Linked DNA regions of Homo sapiens: all the other regions are linked to region 3. Evidence: fine-mapped expression QTL. A gene starts in region 3. Each other region holds a variant in brackets. All regions are shown on one strand. Distances are from middle to middle.

What was found. PIP is the estimated chance that this variant, and not a neighbour inherited with it, causes the effect.
Region 1: its variant is the best candidate, but not a certain one, in a credible set for the expression of DNAJA3 in fibroblasts (GTEx, PIP 0.70).
Region 2: its variant is the best candidate, but not a certain one, in a credible set for the expression of DNAJA3 in whole blood (INTERVAL, PIP 0.84).

What each region holds. Positions count from the first base shown.
Region 1 is chr16:4,444,747-4,448,872 of GRCh38, reverse strand. DNAJA3 (DnaJ heat shock protein family (Hsp40) member A3) reads right to left here. Exons shown (of 12, transcript NM_005147.6): 8 at 1,859-1,987; 9 at 25-140. Among named protein-coding and RNA genes, the nearest start is that of DNAJA3, 21 kb to the right of the region's middle. The variant C/G (reference allele first, on the strand shown) is at 1,752.
Region 2 is chr16:4,451,563-4,455,688 of GRCh38, reverse strand. It overlaps DNAJA3 (DnaJ heat shock protein family (Hsp40) member A3), which reads right to left. Exons shown (of 12, transcript NM_005147.6): 11 at 762-878; 12 at 1-143. The coding sequence ends at 775. Among named protein-coding and RNA genes, the nearest start is that of NMRAL1, 21 kb to the left of the region's middle. The variant C/T (reference allele first, on the strand shown) is at 2,193.
Region 3 is chr16:4,423,403-4,427,528 of GRCh38, reverse strand. It overlaps DNAJA3 (DnaJ heat shock protein family (Hsp40) member A3), which reads right to left and starts at 1,661. Exons shown (of 12, transcript NM_005147.6): 1 at 1,437-1,661. The coding sequence starts at 1,647. LOC124903635 (a long non-coding RNA gene) reads left to right here and starts at 1,740. Exons shown (of 3, transcript XR_007064963.1): 1 at 1,740-2,051.

The DNA.
Region 1 (4,126 bases), 21 kb before region 3:
GGCCACAGCCTAGGGGGCACTTACTTTGGAACTCGTATCTTGATGTGGATGTAGTGGTCTCCGTAGCCGTAGCTGTTAATCCGGGGGATGCCTTTCCCACCCATCCGAATCTTCTGGTCTGTCTGAGTCCCAGGGGGGATCTATAAAGAAAGAAAATCTGTGGTTTCCCCTGGTCCCCAGTTGCTCAAATAAAAAGTTTTCACTACATGAAGACAATCTTGATAGGAATTCCTTGAAAAGAACTACCACTGGCTCACGCTCCCATCACTTTGGGAGGTCGAGGCAGGCTGATCACGAGGTCAGGAGTTCAAGACCTGCCTGGCCAACATGATGAAACCCCGTCTCTACTAAAAATACAAAAATCAGCAGGGCATGGTAACGTGCACCTGTAATCTCAGCTACTCAGGAGGCTGAGGTAGGAGAATTGCTTGAACCCGGGAGGCGGAGGTTGCAGTGAGCCAAGATTGTGCCATTGCACTCCAGCTCTGGCTGACAGAGCAAGACTCTGTCTCGGCAGAGCGGTGGTGGAGGGGGTGGGTAAAAAAAAAGGCCGGGCGCAGTGGCTCATGCCTGTAATCCCAGCACTTTGGGGGGCTGAGGCAGGCAGATCACGAGGTCAGGTGATTGAGACCTTCCTGGCCAACATGGTGAAACCCCATCGCTACTAAAATACAAAAAATTAGCCAGGCATGGTGGCGCGTGCTTGTAGGCCCAGGTACTCAGGAGGCTGAGGTGGGAATCGCTTGAACCTGGGAGGCGGAGATTGCCACGAGCCAAGATCGCGCTACTGCACTCCAGCCTGGCGACAGAGCAAGACTCTGTCTCAAAAAAAAAAAAAAAAAAAAAAAAGAACTGCCACTGGGCTGGGCGCAGTGGCTCACGCCTTTTAATCCCAGCACTTTGGGAGGCCGAGGCGGGTGAACTGCCTGAGATCAGGAGTTGAAGACCAGCCTGGGAAATACGGTGAAACCCTGTCTCTACTAAAATACAAAAAATTAGCCAGGTGTGGTGGCGTGCACCTGACGACAAAGCGAGACTCCATCTCAAAAAAAAAAAAAGAACCACCACTTGGGTTTCTGGGCCAAGCCCGCCCACAAGCACATGGAAATGAGCTAAGTTGGGTCTGCCCAGAGCAGAGCCTGTGACTAGGATGAGGGGGCAAGAGTTTGGGCAAGTGAGCCCAGGAAGCAGGAGTGAGGGAGCAAAGCAGGAAAAGCCAATACAGGGTGCGTGGCTGAGGTCGCTCCCTGGCCCTTGGAACCACAGGACCCTGGAGAAGCCAGGGAATAGCCCCCAGATGGAGGAGAAAGCCTTGGCCCAAAATGCCCACCTCCTTCATGGAGGTTACCCCAAGGTTCCCCACAAAGAAGCTGGAGAAGGTTCTGAGGCGAATACAGAGAATGATGTGGCCTGGAGGTGGGAAGAGCTGGAGGGGCAGGTCAAGAGAGAGGTGGGGGACAGGTGCTGGCAGCACACAGGCAGCCATCACTGTGGCAAAAGGGATATGCACCGCCCGAGTCTTCTGCTCTTGGAGCCAGACACTGGACAGAAGCAAGTGCAGAGAGCACAACCCAGGGTGAACCCTTCTGTGTCCTGAATGCGCCCAGTTCCCAGGCCCCGCTAACCAGTGTGGGAGTGATGCCAGCCAGGAACTGCTTCCCATGCGATTATAGACTCAAGGCCTGTGGCTTGTGGTCCACACTCAAGGAGCAGCCTAAAATTCCTCATGTCCTCCCCTGTGAGTGCCCCCC[C/G]ACATGCTGGTCACTCATGGGTTCCAGGCCACTGGTCAGTTCTTTTCCATTTCAGAAAAAGAGCAATAAAGTACAGGGGTGACAAAGGTGTTCTCACACCCTCTTACCGTCACGTTGATCGTCTCGTACAGGCCCTGGGCTCTGGCTGTACCCCCAAGAAGAGCCTGAGCTATAGAAATAAAGAGGTCGGAGTGGATGTCTGCGCCGTCCCTCCGGAACACAGGGCTTTTCTGCACCTAAGGCCAAACATGACAGATGCATGTGAAGATAAGTCCACTGCAGACTAAACACCAGCTGCATGCCTGGCCAGGCCCAAGCTCAGACCTGACAAACTACACACCCCTTCCATACATAAAGTGCAGTGTTGAGGGAAAGAACTGTCCTTCCAACAAGGAGACACCATCCCAGGCCCAGGAATGACATGTTCTACATATTTCAACACTGCAATGTTCTACACACTTGAAATGCCGAAATGGAAGCGTGCCTGGATTTCCTCAGTCTCAGATCAAGCCATTCAATCGTGAAGGGAAACAAAAATGTAAAACTGGCTTTTGATTTTTTTTTTTTAATCTTACTTTAGCCAGGCACAGTGGCACACACCTGTAATCCCAGCACTTTGGGAGGCCAAGGTGAGTGGATCACCTGAGGTCAGGAGTTTGAGACCAGACTGACCAACATGGTGAAACCTTGTCTCTACTAAAAATACAAAAATTAACCAGGTGTGGTGGCGGGCCCCTGTAATCCCAGCTACTCAGGAGGCTGAGGCAGAAGATCCACTTGAACCTGGGAGATGAAGTTTGCACTGAACAGAGATCACACCACTGCACTCCAGCCTGAGCAACAGAGCGAGACTCCACCTCAAAAAAAAAAAAAAAAAAATCTTACTTTATTAGAAAGTATAGGCCAGCCGTGGTGGCTCACGCTTGTAATCCCAGCACTTTGGAAGGCTAAGGTGGGTGGATCACCTGAGGTCAGGAATTCGAGACCAGCCTGCCAACATGGTGAAACCCCATCTCTACTAAAAATACAAAAATTACCTGGGTGTAGTGGCGCATGCCTGTAGTCCCAGCTACTCAGGAGGCTGAGGCAAGAGAATCGCTTGAACCTGGGAGGTGGAGGTTGCAGTGAGCTGAGATCATGCCACTGCACTCCAGACTGGGCAACAGAGCAAGACTCTCTTTCCAGAAAAAAAAAAGAAAAAAAAGGGAAGAGTAAATAATATAACAAGCATGTCATACCCACAACCCAGTGGAGGTAACAAAATATCACAGGCCGGGCGCAGTGGCTCATACCTGTAATCCCAGCACTTTGGGAGGCCAAGGTGGGTGGATCATTTGAGCCCTGGGGTTTGAGACCACCCTGGGCAACATGGTGAAACCTCATCTTTACTAAAGATACAAAAGTCAGCCGGGCCTGGTGGCGTGTGCCTGTAGTCCCAGCTACTCAGGAGGCTGAGGTGGGAGGATCACCTGAGCCCAGGGAGTCTGAGGCTACAGTGAGCCAAGACTGCCCCACTGCATTTCATCCTAGGCAACAAAGCAATACCCCACCTCAAAAAATAAAGTAAAATAAAATAAAACATCATAAACACCGGTGAGTCTTGCCCTCCTCAGCTAACCACAACCCTGACTTTAACATTTATCATTCCTACAAGCTTCTACTTACTATGTATTTCCGTGTCCCTAAATAATACATAATGCCATCTCACAGGTTTTAAAACTTTACACAGATGGTCTCTGAGGCCCTACAGCCACTGGCAAGCTGCCTTCCATCCCTGCTGTCTGTACCTGCAACGCCTGGAGCATCCCTTGAGTTCAGCTCTCATTCTTTCCTTCCGACTGCCCTGCAGCAGCCTCTGACCACCACGGCTCACTGAGCCATTCTCTTGTTGGAGGAAGGCAGTGTCTTGCTACCATGGACAGGACTCTTGTGCACCCCTTTGTACCTATCGCCTGCTAGGCTTGTGTGGGTTTTTCTCAGGTGTACACATAGGAGGGCAATTGCCAGTAGAAGGCATTGTCTTCATTAATGTTTCCACCATCTCAGAAAACCAAGGTTTGCCCCTGTATACAGTATGTAAAATTGTAACTTTCACACTCACTGCCTCATCAACAATCTTATCATAAAAACACAAGATGTTTCCTGTATTTTTATGTGACCTGTATTTCTAACTTGTTAGCATGTTGAAGAAGTTGTCTTCTCTCCACACAAGGCACAGAATCTTGAAGGTAACAAACAGCTAAAAACCACATCTAGGTGGCCACTGTGCCCCTCAGAAACATGAATGGCGAGACATGTTCCTGTGAAGCTTTGATTACATGGGAGCAGCCTCAGCCACACCCACCCGAAGAGAGGAAAGGCCCAACAGAAGCTGT
Region 2 (4,126 bases), 28 kb before region 3:
ATGATTTTGCTGTTGCCAAGGCCGTCCAGAGGCTCTGCGGGTGGGAGCTCAGTGCTGCTGTTCTGGAATCCTCCCGTCTCCCAGGTGCCCTGGCCCTTGGAGGGGCTGCTGCTTCCCGGCCTAGTTTCCAGTGGATCTTTTTCCTGAGCCAAAGAGATAGGCTGTTACCTTATACTCAACATTTCAAGGGAACACACCCCTGTGGGGAGCGTCTGTTAATCCCTGGAAAGCAGCTGTGCCAAGAGAGGGGCGAGAACCCCACTTGCTGAGATGAGCATAATAAACCAAAGTGGGTCCCAAGATGACACGGCGAGCAAGCGCTACCCCTGGAGCAGCCCCCAGGCTTGCACAGCCCTGCGCTGTCCACGCAGGAGGGCAGCTTCCAAGCAGGCAGGACGTGAGGAGATCTGAGTTCTAGGCCTGGCTCTGCCTGACTCGCCCTCTGTGACCATGGGCAAGCCGGACCCACCACTGCAGGGGGGCTGTACAACAGCCCCAGCATCGCCACCTCCCCAGGAAGAAGACACAGCCAGAGGCTGGCCGCGGCAGCCCAGCCAGTCCTGCACTACAGGCTGATTGCCACGTCATCTATTCCCTAGGCTGAGAGGCCAGCTCCTAGTGGAGCTAGGTTTACCACACCTTGGACTGGCACCTGTTCCAACTCCTGGGGGTGGGGGCACAATATTGGTTAAAGTGGGAGAAAACCAGGATTAGTTCACAGAGGAAAACAAAGGGAAAAAAAACCTCCAGGGTTTTCCTACCTCGGCTGGGATATCATGAGGTAAACATTTTCTTAAGTTTGGAAAGGAATCCCTCCTCGTCCTCCCCAGCCTCACGCCTAGCCTTGCTTCCTGCGGAGCTATCCATGGTGCTGCCACCTGGGCACAAACAGCAGAAAGAACTGGCGTCATGGGCCTGCACTTCCACAGTCACATCCCAGGGCCCACCTACCCCCGCCTGGCCACCCAGGGGCCCACGTTCAAGAAGCGGCCAAGTGCCACCTCAAGAAGAGTGGGGGCCACTCCTAAGATGGCACAGGATGCCTCACCTTGCAGACGACTGAGGTGAACAGGCCACTCAGAGCCTGAGGGTCTCCCAACTGCTCTTTCAATCAAGGACCCACAGCAGGGAAACAAGAAATAGAGACGGACTATGACAGCTGTCTCTATCTGAGCAACAGTGACAAAAACACAGTCAAGTGCCAGGCACCTCCCAGGCCAGGCCATACACTTCCTTACAGGCAAATTTCACAGATGAAAAAACAAAAAAAGGAGGCACAGAGAGGTTACAGGGTTTACCCAAGGCCACAGAGCCAACAAGCGGGAGGGAGGACTGAGTGCGAGCCCATGCAGTCTGACTCCAAAGCTGAGACTCAACCACCATGCTGTTGGCTATAAGAAGGTAAATAATGACTGCCAAGAAAAACCCTACTCTAGACCAACTGGCCAGATTCCATGCTGCTGTGTGCGCAAAGACCCTGCAGAACAGCCCATGTGGGAGTCACGGCCACGCACAATCCTTTGTCACAGGCACTCCATCTCATCCCTCACATCAGCAGTCTATCTCCCTGAGCAAGTTGTCCCCATTTGGGGCACCTAACCTAAATGCTCTCAACCTAGGGAAGCTGTGCTGCAATTTCTTTAGGGCCCAGGCTGACACCATCTAGAGGTACTTTCTCACACAAACGTGTTACAGATTTGCCAACTACTAGACAAGGAGTGCACACTTTTGTTGTGAGTTAGAATATAGACCTGAACTTGGCATGTTAATTGTAGAGCTCATTTTTAATGTGCTCAGAGACCTAGGCCACGCACAGTGCATAAAAGAGTAAAGGCCTCAGTCTAAGTAAGAAGGTGCCTTCGCTAGTGAAAGGTCCAAAGTTTGGGGCCACAGGTCCCCGGGAAGGGGTGAGGGAGGCTACATAAAACAGAGTGAGACCCAGTCTCAAAAAAGAAAAGGCCGGGCACAGTGGCTCACGCCTGTAATCCCCGCACTTTGGGAGGCCAAGGCAGGCGGATTGCCTGAGCTCAGGAGTTCGAGACCGGCCTCGAACATGGTGAAACCCATCTCTACTAAAATACAAAAAATTAGCCAGGGGCGGCATGCACCTGTAGTCCCAGCTACTCGGGAGGCTGAGGCAGAATTGGTTGAACCCAAGAGGCAGAGTGCGTTGCAGTGAGCCGAGATCACGC[C/T]ACTGCACTCCGGCCCGGGTGACAGAGTGAGACTCCGTCTCCAAAAAAAGAAAAAAAAAAAAAGAACAACAAGGAGCCATACTGTGTCTCTCACTCAAAAAGTCACATAGTAATTGCAAGCCCCCCCAGTTCCCTCTCTGTTCGCCAGAAGATGGACCTGTTTATCCCTGCAAGTGCTGAGTCTCTAAGCACACCATGGTCTTTCTGGGAGACCGGGGTCAGCTCTTAAGGTTTTCAGCAGCTACATTAAGATACTAAACGCATCAAAAACTATGCTGGTCAGGCACAGTGGCTCATGTCTGTAATTCCAACACTCTGGGAGGCCAAGGTGGGAGGATCACTTGAGTCCAGGAGTTTGAGGCTGCCGTGAGCTATGACTGCACCACTGCACTCCAGGCTGGGCCACAGAGCAAGACTCTGCCTCAAATAAATAAATAAATCCCACTGTTGCTTAAGTTCTTAGGACATGAGAATTATATGTCCTGTAATACTGTCATATGTGGATGCAAAACTAACTGTCTTCACAGTATAATGAGAGACTTAACCACCCACAGGCAGCAGACTGACATGTGACGGTGTATGCTTAGGGACAGAGTCTTGCCCTGGCACCCAGGCTGGAGTACAGTGTCGCTGTCATGACTCACCGCAGCCTTGAGTACTAAGGCTCAAGTGATCTTCTCATCTCAGCTTCCCAAGTAGCTGGTGATAGAGGTGCATACTACTTTGCACCTGGCTAGTTTTGAAATTTTTTGTAGAGACAGAGTCTCGCTATATTGCCCAGGCTGGTCTCGAACTCCTGGGTTCAAGTGATCTTCCTGCATTAGCCGCCCAAAGTGCTGGGATTATAGGTGTGAGCCGCTGCATCCGGCCTCACCAAGATCTTTAAAAGGAAGAGCTGACAGTGTCTTGCACACAGGAGAAGACATCCTGGCTGAGTGAGGGAACAGCTGAGTGAGGCTGAGTGATCAGGACAAGTAACCATGGAAGTGACAAAGGATCTCAGTGGGTGGCGGAATCAACTTTCAACTTACAGTATCAGAGAGAGGGTCAAAACATCAACTGGTGACCAGTAATACCCAACCTCCAACAGAGTAAGCAACACCCACGAACCCACCCAGGGCCCGGCCGTAGCACACCTCAAGCTACCCTGATGGGCGGGAGGAGGGAAGGACAGCTGTCTATGGAACCAATCTCGCATGTTATGTGATTGTAGGGTTTGAGGAAGGAGAAGCCACAGGTGCACTGATTAGAGTTCCGGGGAATAGCTACTCTATTACCACTTCTATTTTAGTTCAAGAGATACAACAAGAACAAAAGATAGTATACATATACACAGTATATGTACCAAACCATTAAAATAAGTGACATTTGGAACCTGGTTGGGCTACAGAGTTTTGTGGCAGCTGCTTTTTTGTTGTTGTTTTTTTGAGACAGAGTCTCGCTATGTCACCCAGGCTGTAGTGCAGTGGTGCAATCTTGGCTCACTGCACCCTCTGCCTCCTGGATTCAAGCAATTATCCTGCCTCAGCCTCCAGAGTAGCTGGGATTATGGATGCCCACCACCATGCCCCGCTAGTTTTTGTATTTTTTTTTTTTTTTTAGTAGAGACAGGGTTTCACCATGTTGGTCAGGCTGGTCTCAAACTCCTGACCTCGTGATCCACCCTCCTCGGCGTCCCAAAGTGCTAGGATTACAGGCGTGAGCCACCGCGCCAGGCCCTTTTTTTTTTTTTTTTTTTTTTTTTCAGAGAGTCTCACTGTCACCCAAGCTGGAGTGCAGTGGTGTGGTCTTGGCTCACTGCATCCTCTGCCTCCTGGGTTCAAGCGATTCTCCTGCCTCAGCGTCCTGAGTAGCTGAGATTACAGGCATGCACCACCATACCCAGCTAATTTTTGTATTTTTAGTAGGGATGGGGTTTCGCCATGCTGTCCAGG
Region 3 (4,126 bases):
TAAATAATACACCCCGCTCACAGACGCTGGGGAAGTTCACCCCTGAAGCCCAGGCTCTTTTCTTTACATTGCATGAAGTAACCACAATTACTGATACTTTAATGATTGTCTACTATGTAACTATTACAAACTGGATTGCAACAGGAAGTTAGTTGGTATAAATTATCTTGTCAGGGCCCTTTAATTAATCTTTATAAATTTATAGATAGCTTAAATACCATTTGCACAAATTCTAGAGGACACAAAACTAGCACAATTCAGGTACGTACAACACACAGCACAAAACACACGGCATAAGAAAAGAAGGCTAAGCAGGGCACGGTGGTTCACGCCTGTAATCCCAGCACTTTGGGAAGCCAAGGGGAGGCGGATCACCTGAGGTCTGGAGTTTGAGACCAGCCTGGCCAACATGGCGAAATCCCGTCTCTATTAAAGATACAAAAATTGGCCAGGCGTGGTGGCGCATGCCTCTAGTTCCAGCTACTGGGGAGGCTGAGGCAGGATAATCTCTTGAACCCAGGAGTCGGAGGTTGCAGTGAGTCGAGATTGAGCCACTGCACTCCGGCCTGGGCAACAGAGCAAGATTCAGTTTCAAAAAAAAAAAGAAAAGAAAAGAAAAGAAAACATGACTAAGCACTTCAAGGCTTAATGTATAATTCAGTGTCATCTCAGGCAATGATATCAAGCCTCCACCTCCTTGTGACATTTATAAGTGGTTTAACATCTAAGCCTCAGTATCTTTATAAAATGGAATAACAGTGCCTATCATGTGGAAATGTGATGTAAGGGGAAAACCATGCCTGGCCAACAGTAAGTGCTCAATAAATGTCTGACTGTGTTATTATTACAATCACCAACTAAAGACTTCTAAAAAGATTGTTAACTGTGCCCTTCAATTAGCACCACGTGGTAGAAAGAGCGTAAACTATGACATGACTGCTTTGGGTTTGAGACAACTCTTCTAGTCTAACTCCATGACCTTGGGCTGGTCGATTCCTCCGTTGAATCTCAGTTTCTCATTCTTTAAAATGGTGATGACGGCAGGCATCTTGCAGGGTTGTTGTAACAAAGTACCTAGGCCTCTCCGAATGGCAGTTAGCTCTTCCCTTCCGCTACGGGCTAGAAGGTGGAGAGATGGGAAAGGAAGAGGACGAGGGAGCAGCGGCCTCCAGAAATGTTGACAGAGAGGTGAAGGTTCACGATCTACGGGGCGTTTCATCACCGCCGCCGGGGGCTCCACGCTTCTCTCCCTTCCTTGACGGCTGAGCAGCCACTGGGGCCTCCCCGCCTCCTGCCTGTCTGTGTCTCCGGCAATTGTGCATCCGCGTCGGAAGACACCCTCCACCCCACTACCCCTGCAGCCGTAGTCACAGCGAGGAGACTCACTCTTTTCTAGGCCCTGAAACCGCCACTCGGAAGTTGGAACCTGCCCTCACCTGTAAGGCTGACACCAGGTCTCAATGTCAGCAGCGCTCGGGGGCCGCAAGAGGTCAGGGAAGACGCAAAGGCGGGGACGCTCAGCTTGCGGCTCAGCCATGCCCCCACCACGCCCTCCCTGGGCGGCCGGGCCCCTCTACCCGATATAGCCGGCAGCCGCGGGGTCCCCACAACCACCAGCAACCAGCGTGTGGAGCACCGCGCAGCCATCTTGGCCCGGGGACTCTGCGCCTGCGCCGCCCGGCTCTAGGTGGGCCTCGCGGGAACGGCGGGCGCGCGTAGAGGCGCATGCGTCGCGCACGCGCAGGCGCACCGTACGCGTAGCCGCAGCCAACGCGCCTTCCGGGTAGCCATCGCCGAAACGGGGTTTGCTCTGAAGAGTGTTGTTAGGTAGACTCGCCGTGCAGAACCTCGCTATTCTGTGCTAGACAACCAATGGGTGTACGTTATCGGTGTAAGGACGTGGTTGAATGTAGCCGAACTTAAGTGGTCCGAGGGGTCTGGCTAAGGGCGAGACTACAAGTCCCAGCATACAACGCGGTCCTCCGTCGCGCCGCTCCCAGCATGTAGTGCGTGGTTTCCTCCTGCTGACCCTGAGACTTACGACGAATTGCGTGAGTTTTACTCATGCCGTCTCCGCGCGCTTCTAGTAAATCTTCGTCGCCACCCTCAGAATCCTGGCCGCAGTCTCACTGTCTCTTAGGCTGATTCCCCACCCGCCTCCTCTAACAAGACTCAGTTCTCCTTTTTTTCTTTTTTTTTTTTTTGACAGAGAGTCTCGCTCTGTCGCCAGGCTGGAGTGCAGTGGCGCGATCTCAACTCACTGCAACCTCCTCCTCCCGGGTTCAAGCAATTCTCTGCCTCAGTCTCCCGAGTAGCAGGGATTACAGGCGCGCGCCACCGCGCCCGGCTAATTTTTTTGTATTTTTAGTAGAGACGGGGTTTCACCATCTTGGCCAGGCTGGGTCTTGAACTCCTGACCTCGTGATCCACCCGTCTCGGCCTCCCAGAGTGCTGGGATTACAGGCGAGAGCCACCGCGCCGACCTCAGCTCTCTCCTTAAGCGTGTTAGCCTTCTCCAAACCTGCAGTGAACTTGCTGGTTCCGAATGGGAGCCGTGCTGCCCAAAAACTAAATTAGTAAAACTTGTGAGCGCCTACTGTGTGTCATGCATGTTCTAGAATATCGGGGATACAGTGATGCCTGATACACCATCCCTGTTCGGGAGGAGCAAACAATGACTCGAGAGAGGCTCCTTAGCAACTAACAATGTTAAATGCTATCACAGGAATAAGCACTGTTACAGTCATACAAGGTGAAGGAGTCATTCCATTTCTAAAATGGGAGAGAGGAAGTTTGGGATGTCAGGGCTTCTAAGAGGTAAGATTCAAACTGAACATCGATGAAAAGTGTGTCAGGTAGGGATGGAGTATTCCAAGTAGCCTGAACTTAAGAAACAAATGTCTAAGATATGAAAGTGTTTGCCTTCTTTGCTTAAACCCTAAATTTAAGAGTATGTGATGAGGCCGGTCGCGGTGACTCACGCCTGTAATTCCAGCATTTTGGGAGGCCGAGGTGCCGGCGGATCACGAGGTCAGGAGTGCCAGACCAGCCTGGCCAACATGGTGAAACCCCGTCTCTACGAAAAATACAAAAATTAGCCAGTCATGGTAGCACGCACCTGTAATCCCAGCTCCTCGGGAGGCTGAGGCAGGAGACTCGCTTGAACCCAGGAGGCGGAGGTTGCAGTGAGCCAAGATCGCGCCACTGCACTCCAGCCTGGGCAAGAGAAACTCCATCTCAAAAAAAAAAAAAAAAAGAAAAGAAGTGGTGGCCGGGCGCAGTGGCTCACGCCTGTAATCCCAGCACTTTGGGAGGCCGAGGCGGGCGGATCACCTGAGGTCCGGAGTTCGAGACCAGCCTGACCAACATGGAGAAACCCCGTCTCTACTAAAAATACAAAATTAGCCGGGCGTGGTGGCGCATGCCTGTAATCCCAGCTACTCCGGAGGCTGAGGCAGGAGAATGGCTTGAACCCGGAAGGTGGAGGTTGCAGTGAGCCGAGATCACGCCATTGCACTCCAGCCTGGGCAAAAAGAGCGAAACTCTGTCTCAAAAAAAAAAAGTATGTGATGAGATGAGGCTAGGAAGGGAGACCTGACCTGGTTAGTCTTGCAAAGGACTTTCAATTTTCACACTCCCACCATCATAACCACCTCAAGCAATGGGGAAAAAACCTGAGGATTCTTGTTTGGATTTAAAACAAACTGTGCTCATAAATCTTCACCCCCATCCCCAAAGCCTGGGAATCTGTGCTACTCCCCCTCCCCGCTACTCCCAGCATTGTACACCAAATTTTTGTGTACGTGGATGTTAATTTGGGTAGATACCCATAGCTTTCGTCAAATTCTCCACAGGCATTGAGACTCGAAGATTAAAAACCACCGGTCCTGCCAGGCACGGTGGCTCACGCCTGTAATCCCAGCACTCTGGGAGGCTGAGGCAGGCGGATCACCTAAGGTCAGCAGTTCGAGACTAGCCTGACCAACATGGAGAAACCCTGTCTCTACTAAAAATACAAAATTAGCTGGATGTGGTGGCGCATGCCTGTAATCCCAGCTACTCGGGAAGCTGAGGCAGGAGAATTGCTTGAACCCAGGAGGCGGAGGTTGCGGTGAGCCGAGATCGC